Regions from separate parts of the Homo sapiens genome. Here region 1 is linked to region 2. Evidence: fine-mapped expression QTL. A gene starts in region 2. The other region holds a variant in brackets. All regions are shown on one strand. Distances are between the middles of the regions.

Region 1 (8,766 bases), 25 kb after region 2:
GGGATAAGAGGGAGACCTTGTCTCAAAAAAATAAATAAAATAAAATAAAATCAATCAATGGAATTGCCAAATTAAGAGATTAAACAAAGAAATACATGAAACATGGCTAATATCATACTTAATAGTAAGACTCAATGTTTTATCCTAAGATTGGAAACAAGGTAAGGATGTCCAGTTTTGTTTTGTTTTGTTTTTTTTTTGAGACAGTCTCTCTGTCGCCATGCTGGAGTGCAGTGGCGCGATCTCAGCTCACTGCAACCTCTGCCTCCCAGGTTCAAGCAATTCCCCTGCCTGAGCCTCCTGAGTAGCTGGGATTACAGGCGCGTGCCACCTTGCCTGGCTTCTTTTTTTTTTTTTTGTATTTTAGTTGAGACGGGGTTTCACCATGTTGGCCAGGATGATCTCGATCTCCTGACCTCGTGATCTGCCCACCTCGGCCTCCCAAAGTGCTGGGATTACAGGCGAGAGCCACCGCGCCCAGCCTGGTTTTTGTTTTGTTTTTTGAGACAGGGTGTTGTTGCTTTGTCCCTCAGGCTGGAGTGCAGTGGCACGATCTCATCTCACTGCAACCTCTGCCTTCCAGGTTCAAACGATTCTCCCAACTCAGGCTGCCAAGTAGCTGGGATTACAGGCACATGCCACCACACCCAGCTAATTTTTGTATTTTTAGTAGAGACGGGGTTCCGCATTGTTGGCCAGGCCGGTCTCGAACTCCTGACCTCAGGTGATCCGCCCACCTTGGCCTCCCAAAGTGCTGAGATTACAGGCGTGAGCCACCATGCCTGGCCAAGGATGTCTGTTCTTACTACCTCTATTCAGTATTGTATTGGAAGTCCCAGACAGTGCAATAAGGTAGGAAATGAAATAAAAAGCACACAGACTTGGAAAGAAGAGAAAGATGATAGCGAACATATATGAAAAGAAAGAAAAATAAAACATCATCTACACAAAAAATCAGAATGAATGTACAAAAAACCTACTAGATCCAGTAAGTGATTTAGTGAAGTTGTAGAATACAAGGTCTATATATAAAACTAAACTGTATTTCTACACGATAACAATGAATAATTGGGAATTGAAAAATTTAAAAATCAATATCTTTTTTTTTTTTTGAGATGGAGTTTGGCTCTTGTTGACCAGGCTGGAGTTCAGTGGCGCCATCTCAGCTTATCACAACCTCCACCTCCTGGGTTCAAGCGATTCTCCTGCCTCAGCCTCCTGAGTAAATGGGATTACAGGCATGCGCCATCACGCCCATCTAATTTTTGTATTTTTAGTACAGACAGGGTTTCTCCATGTTGGCCAGGCTGGTCCCGAACTCCCAACCTCAGGTGATCCACCCACCTCAGCCTCCCAAAGGGCTAGGATTATAGGTGTGAGTCACCATGCCTGGCTTTTTTTTTTTTTTTTTTTTTTTTTTTTTAGGACTAAGTCTCACTCTGTTGCCCCAGGCTGGAGTGCAGTGGCATGATCTCAGCTCACTGCAACCGCTGCCTCCAGAGTTCAAGTGATTCTCCTGCCTCAGCATTCCTGAGTAGCTGGAATTACAGGCACCTGCCACCACTCCTGGCTAATTTTTGAATTTTTAGTAGGACGGGGTTTCACTATGTTGGCCAGGCTGGTCTTGAACTCCTGACCTCGTGATCTGCTGGTTTCAGCCTCCCAAAGTTCTGGGATTAGAGACATGAGCTGCTGTGCCCAGCCGTGACTCCGTCTTTATAAAAAAAAAATTAAAAATGAGCTAGGCATGGTGTCGCATGCCTCTAGTCCCACCTACTTGGGAGGCAGAGGTGGGAGGATCGATTGAGCCTAGGAGGTGGAGACTGCACTGAGCTATGATCATGCCTGTGCACTCCCTCCCAGCTGGGCGACAGAGAGAGAACCTGTCTCTAAAAAAAAAACAAGAAACAAACAAAAGAACAGGGACTTGAACGTGCACAGAGTGGCAAGTTCTGCCGCTTGCCAGCTAGATGGCCTCGGGTTTAAGCTCTCCCAGACTGTTTTACCATCTTTGTATTCTACCTGATTTTAGTCCCTGACACAAAAGTTTGCTTTGTAATGTAAAGAAAACTAAGCAGGACTGGGGCAGTGGCTTGTCAGTAATCCCAGCGCTTTGAGAGACTGAGGCCGGAGAATCGTCCAGTTTAAGACCAGCCTGGGCAACATAGTGAGATCCCAACTCTGAAATAAACCAAACACAAAAATTAGAGATAACATAAAGATATCCTCACAGATGCACGTGAAGATTCGTACATATTCATCCCCTCGCCGGGCGCCGTGGCTCATGCCTGTAATCCCAGCACTTTGGGAGGCCAAGGCGGGTGGATCACCTGAGGTTGGGAGCTCGAGCCAGCCTGGCCAACATGGAGAAACCCTGTCTCTACTAAAAATACAAAATTTACCAGGCGTGGTGGCGCATGCCTGTAATCCCAGCTACTCAGGAGGCTGAGGCAGGAGAATTGCTTGAACCCGGGAGATGGAGGTTGCAGTGAGCTGAGATCGTGCCTTTACACTCCAGCAATAAGAGTGAAACTCCATCTCAAAAAAAAAAAAAAAGATATTCATCCCGGTTTCATTCATAACACTGAAATGTCAGAAACAACCATGATCACAGGATTAAGTTACTTGATAAATATAACCATAACCCCCCCCCGCCTCAAAACAGTGGCTGGTATACAATAAGTGTTCAATAAACATGAACAATGCTTGATATTCTGCCTAATTGATGTGACAAATATTTCCTCCCAGACTGTTGCTCTGCCTGTCTTCTGTTATGTTTTATTTTCTGTTTTGTTTTTGTTATTGTTTTTTGAGACAGAGTCTTGCTCTGTCGTCCAGGCTGGAGTGCAGTAGTGCGATGTCGACTCACTGCAACTTCCACCTCCCGGGTTCAAGCGATTCTCCTGCCTCAGCCTCCCAAGTAGCTGGGACTAATTTTTGTATTTTTAGTAGAGATGGGGTTTTGCCATGTTGACCAGGCTGGTCTGGAACTCCTGACCTCAGGTAATCCGCCTGCCTCGGCCTCCCAGAGTGCTGGGATTACAGGAGTGAGCCACCATGCCCGGCTTTCTGTCATTTTAAAGAAATATTTAGGCCAGGTGCGATGGCTCAAGCCCGTGATCCCAACACTCTGGGAGGTGGAGGTGGGCCAGCCACTTGAGCCCAGGAGTTCAACACCAGCCTGGGCAGAACAGTGAGACCCTGTCTCTACTTTTGTAAAATAAAAAATAATAAAATTTAAAAAGAGCCAGGCAAGGTGGCTCATGCCCGTAATCCTAGCACTTCGAAAGGCCAAGGCAGGCAGATTGCTTGAGCCAAGGAGTTTGAGACGATCCTGGGCAACATAGGGAGACCTCACCTCTACTAAAAATAAAAAAATTAGCTAGGCATGGTGGTACATGCCCTGTAGTCCCAGCTACTTGGGAGGCTGAGGTGGGAGGATCACTTGAACCCAGGAGGCAGAGGCTGCAGTGAGCTGAGACAGTGCCACTGCACTACAGCCTGGGTGATGGGATGAGACCCTGTCTCGAAAATAAATAAATAAGTAAAACAAAAAGAAATATTTAACAATTTCAAAACAGGATCATTTCTGGGGGCTTTAAAAATTATCAAATAAATTTAAAAATTATCACAATAATGCAATCTCATTGTTAAAGTGTCAAACAGTAGAAAAGTAAAAATATTGAAATTCTCCCCCTTAAATTCCCACCCTGATATTTCTTCCCAAGGAACTATCCTCCCAGGGCATCCCGTGCATGTACAAACCTGTGTGTCAT[G/T]GACGGTCTTGGACGTAAATGTGATCATACTGTACACAATGTTCTATGACTCTTTTTATCCGTGGAGCAGAGTACCTAGGAATTTTTTTTATGTCAATAGCTATAAGTCTGTTTCATTCTTGTTAATGGCTTCAGAGCATTCCCGTAAGGTACTGTGCCCTAATTTATTAAACTATGCCTCTGTTGTCAGTCACTGAGACTGTTTTCCAATTTTCACTTTTATAAGCAACGGCATCATTGCAGAAAAGCGCTGTGAGGAACACACATCTTTAGACGCATGCGTTTATAGAGGATTGATTGTTGGACGAAACCCGGCTAGGTCAAAAGTTATGCGCTTTATATTTGTTGTTTACTGGGAGGCCAAGGCGGGCGGATCACAAGGTCAGGAGATCGAGACCATCCTGGTTAACATGGTGAAACCCCGTCTCTACTCAAAATACAAAAAATTAGCCGGGCGTGGCGGCGGGCGCCTGTAGTCCCAGCTCCTTGGGAGGCTGAGGCAGGAGAAGGGCATGAACCCAGGAGGCGGAGCTTGCAGTGAGCCGAGATCACGCCACTGCACTCCAGCCTGGGCGACAGAGCGAGACTCCGTCTCAAAAAAAAAAAAAAAAAAATTTGTTGCATGATGACAGTCAAATTCCCTTCCCCCTAAAATCTCCATAATTGACAGTTTCCCAGCCTAACACTGTGAAGATGTTTCTTATTCACCCAACTTTCAGTGTGACTGGATGTGTTAATATTTTTAGCATTTGCCAAATTAAGAAGTGAAAACTGGCCGGGCATGGTGGCTCACACCTGTAATCCCAGCACTTTGGGAAGCTGAGGCAGGAGGATCGCTGGAGCCCAGGAGTTCGAGGCCGGCCTGGGCAACAAAGTGAGACCCCCCACCCGCCTCCGCCATCTCACTTTGAAAAAATAAAACAAATTAGTCAGGTGTGGTGACAGGGGCCTGTAGTCTCAGCTACTGGGGAGGCTGAGGTGGGAGGATTGCTTGAGCCCAGGAGGTCGAGGCTGCTGTGAGATATGATTGCCCAATAGCACTCCAGCCTGGGCGACAGAGCGGTACCCATTCTCAAAAACAGCAAGAACACCAACAAAAACACCAAAAAGATAAAAAAGGAAATAATAATACTACCTATATCAAAGGGCTAAAAATTAAGTTATTTGATAAATACAACCCCCCCCAAACAATGGCTGGTATATATAATAGTAAGTGTTCAATAAACATGAACAAAGCTCGATCATCTGCCTAATTTATGTGACAAATATTTCCTTCCAGGCTATTGGCTTTGTTTGTCTTCTGTCTTTGTTAAGCATGTTTTCATGTCATCAAACGCTCTCATCTTTTCTTTCAAGGCACTGACTTGCAATAAAAGCAAATCTAGGACATTTAAATTGATTGCAGAATAAAAAACTGACTCTGGGCCAGGCACTGGGGCTCACGCCTGTAATCCCATTGCTTTGGGAGGCTAAGGTGGGCAGATCACCTGAGGTCAGGAGTTCAAGACCAGCTGGCCAACATGGTGAAACCCCATCTCTACTAAAAATACAAAAATTAGCTGGGCATGGTGGCTTATGCCTGTAATCCCAGCTACTCAGGAGACTGAGACAGGAGAATCGCTTGAACCCGGGAGGCGGAGGTTGCAGTGAGCCGAGATCAAACCACTGCACACCAGCCTGGGCGACAGAGTGAGACTTCATCTCAAAAAACAAAACAGAACAAAACAAAACAAAAGGAAGGAAATTGGGAAAAAAGAAGGGAGTATTAGCAGTGTTCACATCCAGGCGGTGGAATTCCTGTGACCTTTTCTTTTTTTACACTCTGCTTTCCATGAACATATATTTCCAAATGAACACATATTACCTTTATGTTTATGTTGCATTTGTTTTATAAATTTGTTCTAAGCACACAAGTAATAATTTGTTTGTGGGTTTGTTTGTTTGAGATGGAGTCTCACTCTGTTGCCCAGGCTGGAGTGCAGTGGTGTGATCTCAGATCACTGCAACCTCCACCTCCTGGGTTCAAGTGATTCTCCTGCCTCAGCCTCCCGAGTAGCTGGGATTACAGGCGACCACCACCACGCCCGGCTAAATTTTTTGTATTTTTAGTAGATACGGGGTTTCATCTTCTTGTCCAGGCTGGTCTCGAACTCCTGACCTCAAGTGATCCACCTGCCTCAGCCTCCCAAAGTGCTGGGATTACAGGCATGAGCCACTGCACCTGGCTGAAGCACACAGGTAATGATTTTATAATGAGAACAGTACTCCCTCCCCTCCCCTCCTTTCCAATAAATGTTAATTCTAAACGACAAAAAAAAAAAAAAAAAAAGCAGTAAGTCAGCCCACAGCTACTCGGTGCTTAACCCTCCCCTAGTCAGCAAAGCTCCACCCCGGAGCCAGACGCCTGAACGCCATAGCAGGACCGCCCCCTGGTGGCAGAAAAGTAAGAATCTGGTCCAGGTAGGTGTGTGCGTCAGTTTCCTCCTGCAAGGAGCTCTGTTTTGTTTTATCTTAGTTTTATTTTATTATTAATTTTTTTGAGACGGTGTCCTGCTCTGTCGCCCAGGCTGGAGCGCAGTGGCACGATCTTAGCTCACTGCAACCTCTGCCTCCTGGGTTCGAGCGATTCTCCTGCCTCAGCCTCCTGAGTAGCTGGGATTACAGGCGTGCGTCTCCACGCCCAGCTAATTTTTGTATTTTTAGTAAAGACGGGGTTTCACCATGTTGGCCAGGCTGGTCTCGAACTCCTGACCTCAGGTGATCCCACCCGTCTTGGCCTCTCGAAGTGCTGGGATTACAGGCGTGAGCCACCGTGCCTGGCCTATTTTATTTTATTAATGTATTATTCTTTATTAGAGACGGGGGGGGGGGTCTCACTATGTTACCCAGGCTGGTTTCGAACTCCTGACGTCAAGCGATCCTCCCACTTTGGCCCCCCAAAGTGCTGGGATTACAGGTGTGAGCCACCACGCCCAGCCTGTTTCCTTTTATTTAGATCACAGGTCGGGCATGGTGGCTCACGCCTGTAATCCCAGCAGTTTGGGAGGCCAAAGTGGGAAGATCGTCTGAGGTCGGGAGTTCAAGACCAGCCTCACCAACATGTAGAAACCCTGTCTCTACTAAAAATACAAAATTAGCCAAGTGTGGCGGCACATGCCTGCAATCCCTGCTACTCGGGAGGCTGAGGCAGGAGAATCGCTTTAACTCCAGAGGCAGAGGTTGCGGTGAGCTGAGACGGAGGTTGTGGTGAGCCAAGATCATGCCATTGCACTCAAGCCTGGGCAACAAGAACAAAACTCCATCTCAAAAAAATAAAAATAAAGATAAATTACAAAGCAACCCACTGGGACTAAAATTAGGTAGAATACACAGGTGACAAATTTGAGAATGGGGGAAGGGAAGCCCAAGGTCAGCTGGCTAGCAATGGGCAGAACCTGCCAATCTGTGCAAATGTAGGACCCTGATTTTTTTTTTCCTTTCTGGCAATAAAGAAGGAAAGGAAAATTCCCTGTTTTTTGCTTTTTTTGTTATTATTTTTGTTTCAGAGATAGGGTCTTGCTCTGTCACCCAGGCTGGAGTGTAGTGGTGTGATAATAGATCACTGCAGCCTCAAACTCCTGGGCTCAAGCAATCCTCCTGCCTTAGCCTCCCAAAGTGCTGGGATTACAGGTGTGAGCCGCCATGCCCAGCCTCTTATTTTTTTTAATTTGTTTATTTATTTTTTGAGATAGAGGCTTATTCTGTCACCCAGGCTGGAGCGTAGTGGCATGATCTCGGCTCATTGTAATCTCTGCCTCCCAGGTTCAAGCAATTCTCGTGCCTCAGCCTCGCAAGAAGCTGGGATTACAGGCACGCACCACCACATCCAGCTATTTTGTATTTTTAGTAGAGAAGGGGTTTCACCATGTTGGCCAGGCTGGTCTCCAACTCCTGGCATCAAGTGACCTACCTGCCTTGGCCTCCCAAAGTACTGAGATTACAGGCATGAGCCACTGTGCCTGGCCTAAACTTATTATTAATATTATTTTTATAAAAGGTTTTACTCTGTTGCCCAGGCTGGAGTGCAGTGGTGCAATTATAGCTCACTGCAGCCTCTAACTCCTGGGCTCAAGCGATCTTCTAACTTCAGCTTCCCAAGTAGCTGGGACTACAGAAGCCCACCCTCACACTCAGCTACTTTTAATATTTTTCATAGAGTCAGAGTCTCACTATGTCACCCAGGCTGGTCTTGAACCCCTGGCCTCAAGCGATCCTCCTGCTTTGGCCTCCCAAAGTGTTGGGATTACAAGTATGAGCCACTGCACTTGGCCTGGGTGGCCAAAAGATGTCCTACAGCCTGACCAGGTTGGTTCTTCCCTGTCCAACCTCTACATGGCCATTTCCAGACACTGGGCAACAAACACACCAAGAGGCTGGGTGCGGTGGCTCATGCCTGTAATCCCAGCATTTTGGGAGGCCAAGGCAGGCAGATTTCTTGAGGTCAGGAGTTCAAGATCAGCTTGGCCAACATGGCAAAACCCCATCTCTACTAAGAATTAAAAAGAAAATTAGCTGGGCATGGTGGCATGCACCTATAATCTCAGCTATTCAGGAAGCTGAGGTGGGAGAATCACTTGAGCCCAGGAGGTGGAGGTTGCGCTAAGGCGAGATCACACAACTGCACTCCAGCCTGGGTGACAGATAGAGACTCTGTCAAAGAAAGAAAGAAAAAGAGGAGAGGGAGAGGGAGAGGGGGAGAGAGAGACAGAGAGACAGACAGAGAGAGACAGAGAGAGACAGAGAGAGAGAGACCAAGAAAACACTCTTGAGAATGTGACTTTATCAGTCTCTTGGGTCCACACCTCGTGGCCAGCTCCTGTGGATTGCAGGACAGGGCCCCTGACCCTGAACCCAGGTCCTCACTGTAACCTCAAAATTTCTTGGCGCTAGCTGAGTCTCAAGCTCTGGAACCAGAGAGGGGTAGCCTAGAGAGTCCAGGAAGGTCCAGTTG
Region 2 (8,766 bases):
GGGTGGGTGGATGGATGAGTGGGGTGGGTGGGTGGATGGATGAGTGCAGTGGGTAGGTGGGTGGGTGGATGGATGGATGAATGAATGGGTGGGTGGATGGATGGATGAGTGGGTAGATGGATGGGTGGATGGATGGATGGAAGGCTGATTGAGACAGGATCTCACTCTGTTGCCCAGGCTGGAGTGCAGTGGCGTGATCATAGCTGACTGTACCCTGGAACTCCTGGGCTCAGGCAATCCTCCTGCCTCAGCCTCCTGAGTAGCTGGGACTACAAGCCCATGCCACCACACCCAACCATTTATTTATACCATGACCTTCCCTGCATCCAGTCATTTAATCCTTACGACACTTATTATTATACCCCTTGTACAGATGAGAAAACCAAGGCCTGGAGAGCTGAGATAACTTGTCCAGGATAAAAATGTCCAACATGAACTTGAGTTTCCCTCACACATCACACATCTGTTCTGAAGGCATAAAGAACTGCATGGGGTGTTTTCCAAATGTGTTTAACATGGAACCCTTTGTTTTTTGAGACAGAGTCTCTCTCTTTCACCCAGGCTGGAGTGCAGTGGTGCAATCTCGGCTCACTGCAACCTCCGCCTCACAGGTTCAACAATTCTCCTGCCTCAGCCTCCCAAGTAGCTGGGACTACAGACGTGTGCCATCATTCCCGGCTAATTTTTGGATTTTTAGTAGAGACGGGGATTCATCGTGTTGGCCAGGCTTGGAACCCTTTCTTATCTAATCTCCAAGCTTGTGTTCTGCTTTTATTTCTGCACAGCCTTCTCACACCTGTGCCTTGGAGTTGCCAGAACTATCCCTTCCTCTGAGCCATCACTACTCCCACGGGGCCACTGCATACCTGATCTTGTCAGTTCCCAACACTGTCCGTGGCTCCCCAGTACCCTTGGATCCATAACCAGGGGCCTGAAGGGCCTTCCTCAGTCTGACCAGCCTCCCTTATCTCCCACCGCCACCCCGGGGACCTGCATCTTATTCTCTGAGAACTCCCTGCTGGTCCACACTCCGAGCCTTTGCCCACTGCCCACACATCTCTTCTCCGTGTCAAACTTCCATGCATCCTTCCAGACTCAAATCTTTCCACCTGTGGGATCTCTTCCCTCCCTGGAAGATTTCAAGAATTTCTTTCCCCAGGCCCCGCTGGCCAGCTTCCCTATGATCTGGTTTCCTGCCCATCCCCCTCTGCCCCATATCCATCCCCTGCCGTCTCCTCTACACCCTGAGCGCCCAGCCCAGCACCTGATAGGTATCATACCGTCAAGAGTCCCCAGAGCTCATGAATCTTGTAGAACTCTGCTCCCATTTCCTTCAGCCCTTCTCCTCTTTTTAGGGGAGTGGAACAGGGAACAGATTGAACTTGACCCTCACGGTAGAGGCAGCCACTGCCGTGTGTCACACAGCAGAGGGAGCTGGGTCAACAAGAACAGAACTGGGTGAGTCAGGGCACTGGGAGCTCACCAACACCCCTCATCAGAAGTTTGCTTTGCTGTCTTCAAAATGGGATAATTTCTACTCTGATTCCTGGCCAGGGGATAATGGATAACGTTAATATTATTCATCAAAATATACCACCGCCAATCACACCAGCAGCGAGCAACCGTTTCGCATGTATCACGCGCCCCGTGCCACGCGAAGAATTCTGTGGTCACTACAGCTTTTACGCCTCCCAGCAACCTTGCAAAGAGGTAACGGGGGGTCTCCATCACTGGAGCAGTGCCCTACACATAGCAAGTGCCCCTGCCCCACAAACATTCGCAAAACAGATAAGTCTGTGAATGAACGCCTTCTTTTATAGAAGGGGAAACAGAAGCTCAGATAATTGGGATAATTCGCATTCTGGTGCAGCTGGACTTCACATTCAATTCTGACACTCCACGTTGAGTTCTCTACAGCCTGGTAACCTTGGAAGTGAGGAGCTGGGGCTGTCCTGGCTGTCCAATGCCCAATCTCTTTCTTCCTCAAGCAAATATCTGCAGGGAGGTAGACCCCAGAGTGGGAAATGCATGCATGGAACGACGCAGACAGAGACTGTCTGGGAGAAAGAGGGACAGGCTGGGGCGGAACCAGGAGACGGACAGCTGTCACTGAGACCCACACCCAGAACAGGTTGATCTGGGAAGGCCAGGGAGAGGGGGGATGGGCTGTGCCAACACCAGTGGGCAGAACCAGTGGGAGAAAAGGATGTACCCCCACAGCTCCCCGCTGGAAAGCCCAGACCTTAATTAACCCCTGTCTTCTCTGGCCAGGCCCTGACTCCTAGCTCTGGCCTGGGGTTGTGAAGCTGCCCAAAGCCGAGACTGAGTGTTTCCAGGGCCTCTAATCCCGGGGACCCGGGATTACGGCATCCTCCCCATTAGGGTGGCTCGGGCTCTCAGGCAAGCGGGCCTGGGGGAGGGAGTGAAGGATCTGCTCTAATGGGAGAAGGCCCCGCAGCCGGGAGGAGCGGGGGGCCCACCCCAGGCGATCTTGTACTACCCATTTCCCTTCAGCTGGGCTCGCCAACCTCCCCAGTAAAATGGGGCCATAAGTCGCAGCTGCCAGGCGCTGGAGGGGGCTATGGAGGCGAAAGGGGGTTCCCAGAGCTCCCCGGTCGCCGCCCGCAGCGCGGCCAGGGCCGACGCGGGGTGTGTGTTGGGGCCTGGGGGTCGTGCGGTGGTGGAGACCGGAGCGCTCGAGACCCCCCAGCGAGGTCGGGGTCTGGGTCTCCAGGGTGTGTGGCGGGGGAAGAGACCGAGAGGAGATCCTCGCAGGGGCGTGATGTGTGTAAAAGAGAAGAAGGCGTGCAAGGGAAGGCCTTGGGGGTGCGGGAGGCGGGAACGAGAGGTCCGCACGGGGAGACCCCACCCGGCCCGCAGACCCCGCCCGGCTCACCTGGAGGCTTGGACGCCGGGGACCCCCGCGCGGAGCTGGGCCGCGGGCCCCACCCCCACCGCGCTCCCGCAGCCGGCGGGGCAAAGTCCACCGCCCGGGCCGAGCAGGAAGCTCGGAGGCCCCGGCGCGGCAGGGGCCCGAGCCCGGGGACCCCCGGCGGCCGGCGCTATTGTTCCCACGGCCCCCTGCCTTCCCGGCCCGGCGCCCCGCCCCCCCCCAGCACCTGCCGCGCCCGGCCCGCCGCCCCCGACCCCGGTCCCCCGAGCCCCGGTACCTGCGCCCCCGAACGCGGCCCGCAGCACCCACGCCAGGCTGGCCGCCGCCTTGGCCCGCGAGAAATCGTACTGGTCCAGCGACTTGATCTCGGGCACTAGAAAGGTCCTCCGCAGCGGCCCGGGCCCGGGGGGCGCCGCCTCCACCATGGCGGCGCCGGGGCTGCGGGCGCCGGGTCCGCGCTCGGACTGGGCTGGGCTGGGCTGCGCCGCGCTCGCGCCCCAGCCGGGCCCGCTGCTGCTACCGCCGCTGCCGCCGCCGCCGCCGCCGCCGCTGCTGAGCCAGGTGCGGCCGCTTGCGCTGGCGACGCTGCGTCGGGCCCGCCCCGGGGAGGAGCCCAGGTGCGCCCCGCCCCCGAACCCGGACCCGGACCCTGGCGCGCCCCTGCGCCCCGCCCGGGCCCCTCACTGCAGTGTGCACGGAGCAGCAGGGGCGGGGCGGAGGGGGGCGGCCTGGACTGCGGCGATGGTGGAGGGAGCTTGCGGAGGACTGAGTGTGTATGTGTGCGCGCGCGCGTGTGTGAGTGTGTGCGCGCGCGCCTAGCTTACTGGAAAGGATTAGGGACCCTCTGTGTGTGCCAGCCCCAGTGTCTACCCTTAGGCGTAGGAGCTCCTGCAAGTGCTTGCAATAAACGCCGGCCCTCAGGCAGAGAGTGGTTGGGTGCACCTGTTTCTGATTATGTTAGTGAAGGCACAAGAATATGAGTGTCTTCGTATCTGTGTATCTCTGAATACATTTGGGTGGTGACCAAGTGTATTGGGGGGTGTCTAGGGGTGTGTGTGTGTGGGGTATGTATCTGGGCACGTGTAAGTGTGTGTTTAATTTGTTGTGTGTACAAGGATATGTATTATATAGATGTCTGTATCCTGAGGATGGATGGAAGTGATGAGTGTGTGTCTGTTTTTTGTTTTTGTTTTTGTTTTTGTTTTTGAGACAGGGTCTCACTCACTCTGTCTCCCAGGCTGGAGTGCAGTGGCGCGATCTCGACTCACTGCAACCTCCGCCTCCCAGGCTCAAGCGATTCTCCTGCCTCAGCCTCCCGAGTAGCTGGGATTACGGGGTTGCGCCACCACTCCCGGCTAATTTTTGTATTTTTAGTAGAGTTGGGGTTTCACCATGTTAGCCAGGCTAGTCTCAAACTCCTGACCTCAGGTGATCACCCGCCTCAGCCTCCCAAAGTGCTGGGATTACAGGCGGCAGCCACCGTGCCCGGCTGTGTGTGTGTTTTTGGAGTGCTGTGAGTATGTCTATCTCTGTGCATCTGAACGTACTGGTGTGTTGTATGAGGCTGTTATTGATGCCTCTGTCAATGCAGGAGTATGGAGAGACATTGAGAGTGTGTGTATTTCAGGCCGAGAGCGGTGGCCACGAGTGTAATCCCAGCACTTTGGGAGGCCAAGGCGGGCAGATCACTTGAGGCCAGGAGTTCAAGAGTAGCCTGGCCAACATAGCAAAACCCCGTCTCTACTAAAAATAAAATTTTTAAAAATTAGCCGGGCATAATGGTGCATGCCTGTAATCCCAAGTACTCGGGAGGCTGAGGCGGGAGAATCGCTTGAACCAGGGAGGCAGAAGCTGAGATAGTGCCACTGCACTCCAGCTTGGCCAACAGAGTGAGACCCTGTCTCAAAAAAAAAAAAAAAGTGTGTATATTTCTGCAAGAGTGTGACTATTTGTGTCTATGAGTGTCCTTGCGTAGCTGTACTGGGTGTATTTGCAAGTGTCTTTGTGTATTATTCTGGTATCTGCAGTGTGTGCTGGGAGAAGGCTCTGTGTGGAGGTGAGGCTGTGTGTCTAAGTGGGTTTGTATTTGAGTATGTGAATCTGGCTATATGCACATGGATGTGTGATTGATTGATTGATTGATTTTTTGAGACGGAGTCTCGCTCTATCGCTCAGGCTGGAGTGCAGTGGTGCGATCTTGGCTCACTGCAAGCTCTGCCTCCTGGGTTCATGCCATTCTCCTGCCTCAGCCTCCCGAGTAGCTGGGACTACAGGCACCCGCCACCACGCCCGGCTGGTTTTTTGTATTTTTTTTTAAGTAGAGACCGGGTTTCACCATGTTAGCCAGGATGGTCTCGATCTCCTGACCTCGTGATCCGCCCAACTCGGCCTCCTGAAGTGCTGGGATTACAGGCTTGAGGCACCGCGCCCAGCAGATGTGTGATTTATGATGAGCAGTTCCTGACTATATTTTTGTGCATATATGTGTGTTTATATGTGAGTATCTTTGTGGATTTGAATATATGGTGGGTGCCTGTGACAGATTGTGTAGGCATGAAAGCAGGTATACCTGTGCAAGAATGCCTGTTTCTGCTGGGTGCAGTGGCTCATGCCTGTAATCCCAGTGCTTTGGGAGGCTGAGGCGGGTGGATCACCTGAGGTCAGGAGTTCAAAACCAGCCTGGCCAACATGGTGAAACCCCATCTCTACTAAAAATACAAAAGTTAGCCGGGCGTGGTTGCCCACACCTATAATTGCAGCTACTTGGGAGGCTGAGGCAGGAGAATCGCTTGAACCCAGGAGGCAGAGGTTGCAGCAAGCTAGGATTGCACCACTGTACTCCAGCATGGGCGACAGAGTGAGACTCCGTCACATTAAAAAAAAAAAAAAGAATGCCTGTGTCTGAATGCTTTTGTGAGAGTTCAAATGTGCATATTTATCTAGGAATTCATATCTGTGTAAGCAAATGTATTTCTGTGTATGAATCTGATTGTGTCTGTAAGTATGGAAGTGTGTGTGAACGCGTTGAGTACAAATATTTGTGTACATGAGTGCAATTGTGTGTTTATTTGTAAGGTCTAAGCACCGATTTGTGGATTTTTGGTTTTTTTTTTTCTGTTTGTTTTTTTTTTTTTTTTTGAGACCGAGTCTCGCTCTGTCACCCAGGCTGGAGTGCAGTGGTGCAATCTTAGCTCACTGCAAGCTCCGCCTCCCGGGTTCGCGCCATTCTCCTGCCTTAGCCTCCCCAGTAGCTGGAACTACAGGCGCCGGCCACCATGCCCAGCTAATATTTTGTATTTTTAGTAGAGACGGGGTTTCATTGTGTTAGTCAGGATGGTCTTGATCTCCTGACCTCAGGTGATCCACCCGCCTCGGCCTCCCAAAGTGCTGGGATTACAGGCATGAGCCACCGCGCCCAGCCGGATGTTTTTAATATTTTAATATTTGCTTTTGTTCTATTGTTTGTTTTGTTGTTGTTGTTTTATTTTTTTTTTGGACAGGATCTCACTCTGTCACCCCAGGCTTGAGTGCAGTGGCACAATCATGGCTCACTGCAGCCACCATCCCTGGCTAATTTTTTGTTTTGTGTAGAGATGGGATCTCCTTATATTGCCCAGGCTGATCTCAAACTCCTAGGCTCAAGGGATCCTCCCACCTCGGCCTCCCAAAGTGCTGGGATTACAGGCATGTGCCACTGTGCTTGGCCCTCCATTGTATTTTTGTCAAAATATCCCCTGCATGCCTCTTAGCTGTATATAATTGTGAATGCACAAGTGTTTGTGTGAGTTCGTTCTTTACAGGCCTGGAAAGAAAAGTGTGTTACTTTCGGCCAGGCACGGTGGCTGAAGCCTGTAATCCCAGCACTTTGGGAGGCCGAGGCAGGTGGATCACTTGAAGTCAGGAGTTCAAGACCAGCCTGACCAACATGGTGAAACCCTGTCTCTACTAAAAATACAAAAATTAGCCAGGCATGGTGGCACATGCCTGTAATCCCAGCTACTTGGGAGGCTGAGGCAGGAGAAGCGCTTGAACCCAGGAGGCAGAGGTTGAAGTGAGCTGAGATCTTGCCACTGCACTCCAGCCTGGGTGACAGAGCCAGACTCTGTCTCAAAAAAAAAAAAAAAAGAAAAGAAAAACGTGTGTTACTTTCAGAACACACACACACACACACACATACATAGGCACCTTGTCACCTTGTGAACAGGAATAAGTGCTCACAGACTCACACAAATATTCACAAATTCACACAAATGTAAATGTCAGCTTCATGCACACAAATGCACTCAGAAAGTGATACGTAAAAAGATAACATACAGGCCGGGCACAGTGGCTCACTCCTGTAATCCCAGCACTTTGGGAGGCTGAGGCAGGTGCATCACCTGAGGTCAGGAATTCGAGACCAGCCTGGCCAACATTGTGAAACCCCATCTCTACTAAAAATACAAAAATTCCCTGTGTGTGGTGGCTGGCGCCTGTGATCCCAGCTACTCAGGAGGCTGAGGCAGAAGAATTGCTTGAACCCAGGAGGCAGAGGTTGCAGTGAGCTGAGATCGTGCCACTGCACTTTAGCCTGGGCGAAAGAGCAGGACTCCATCTCAAAAAGAAAAAAAAAAAAAAAAGACCGGGCCCAGTGGCTCACGCCTGTAATCCCAGCACCTTGGGAGGCTGAGGTGGGCGGATCACCTGAGGTCCGGAGTTCAAGACCAGCCTGACCAACATGGAGAAACCCATCTCTACTAAAAATAAAAAAAAAATTAGCCAGAGGTGGTGGTGCATGCCTGTAATCCCAGCTACTTGGGGGGCTGAGGCAGGAGAATTGCTTGAAACCAGAAGGCAGAGATTGCGGTGAGCTGAGATTGCACCACTGCACTCCAGCCTGGGCAACAAGAGCGAAACTCCGTCTCAAAAAAAAAAATAAATAAATAAATAAATAAATAAATTCCAACACTTTGGGAGGCCAAGGTGGGCAGATCACCTGAGGTCTGGAGTTCAAGACCAACCTGACCAACATTGAGAAACCCCATCTCTACTAAAAACACAAAATTAGCCAGGCATGGTGTCGCATGCCTGTAATCCCAGCTATTCAGGAGGCTGAGGCAGGAGAATCGCTTGAACCTGGGAGGTGGAGGTTGCGGTGAGCCAAAATCGCACCATTGCACTCCAGCCTGGGCAATGAGAGCAAAAAAACTCCGTCTCATAAAAAAAAACAAAAACAAAACGCTATGAAATGGAAAGACGCTGTGGCAAGGTGGTCTCCAAGACCCTTGACCCCGGATGGTGGCCCCAGAGCTAGCTCTTTGTTGAAATGGCACGTGTGTTTGGGGCGTGGGTCTCATGGTCCGGAGCATGTGAGCAGGCATGGGGGTGGGTGTGCCGAGGGAGGGGAGCTGGGGCGTGGGCCCTCCTGTCTGGATGTGCCCGTGCAGGAGTGGGTGTGGGTGCGCAAAGGGGCCAGTGTCTGTGTGTGTGAGCACAGGTGCTGATGTGGATGACGCATGCCCCGGCTCCTGTCCCAGTCCCCTCGAAGGACCTAAACAAGGTCTTTTCCCCACTGGACCTCAGTTTCCCCATCTGGAGACCTGGGGTTCCTGGCCCGGGGAAGCATTTCCAGCAGGAAAGGGTGCTTCTGCCATAACCTGCCCCTCTGTGAGCTTGGCGTGTCCTGCCGGCTCACACGTGGGTTTGCTTTTCCTGGGATGGTTCCCATGACCTCCGTGGACCCCAAGGACAAACCCAGCAAAGGCAGCAAATGCAGCATGCTCACACACAATCCGGGGAGATGTGGGGTGGATACACGGGTTCAGCTTCCCATCCCGGGAGGGGGCTGCAGTTTGGGAAGGATGGGTGGGGGGCCGTCCAGGTCCAGAGGTGTT

The links. PIP is the estimated chance that this variant, and not a neighbour inherited with it, causes the effect.
Region 1: its variant is fine-mapped to the expression of CAMSAP3 in sun-exposed skin (GTEx, PIP above 0.99).

What each region holds. Positions count from the first base shown.
Region 1 is chr19:7,565,996-7,574,761 of GRCh38, reverse strand. No RefSeq gene overlaps it. Among named protein-coding and RNA genes, the nearest start is that of CAMSAP3, 25 kb to the left of the region's middle. The variant G/T (reference allele first, on the strand shown) is at 3,777.
Region 2 is chr19:7,590,555-7,599,320 of GRCh38, reverse strand. CAMSAP3 (calmodulin regulated spectrin associated protein family member 3) reads right to left here and starts at 3,458. Exons shown (of 17, transcript NM_020902.2): 1 at 3,171-3,458. The coding sequence starts at 3,318. RefSeq lists an enhancer at 1,874-2,479 and silencers at 3,319-3,758, 5,822-6,022.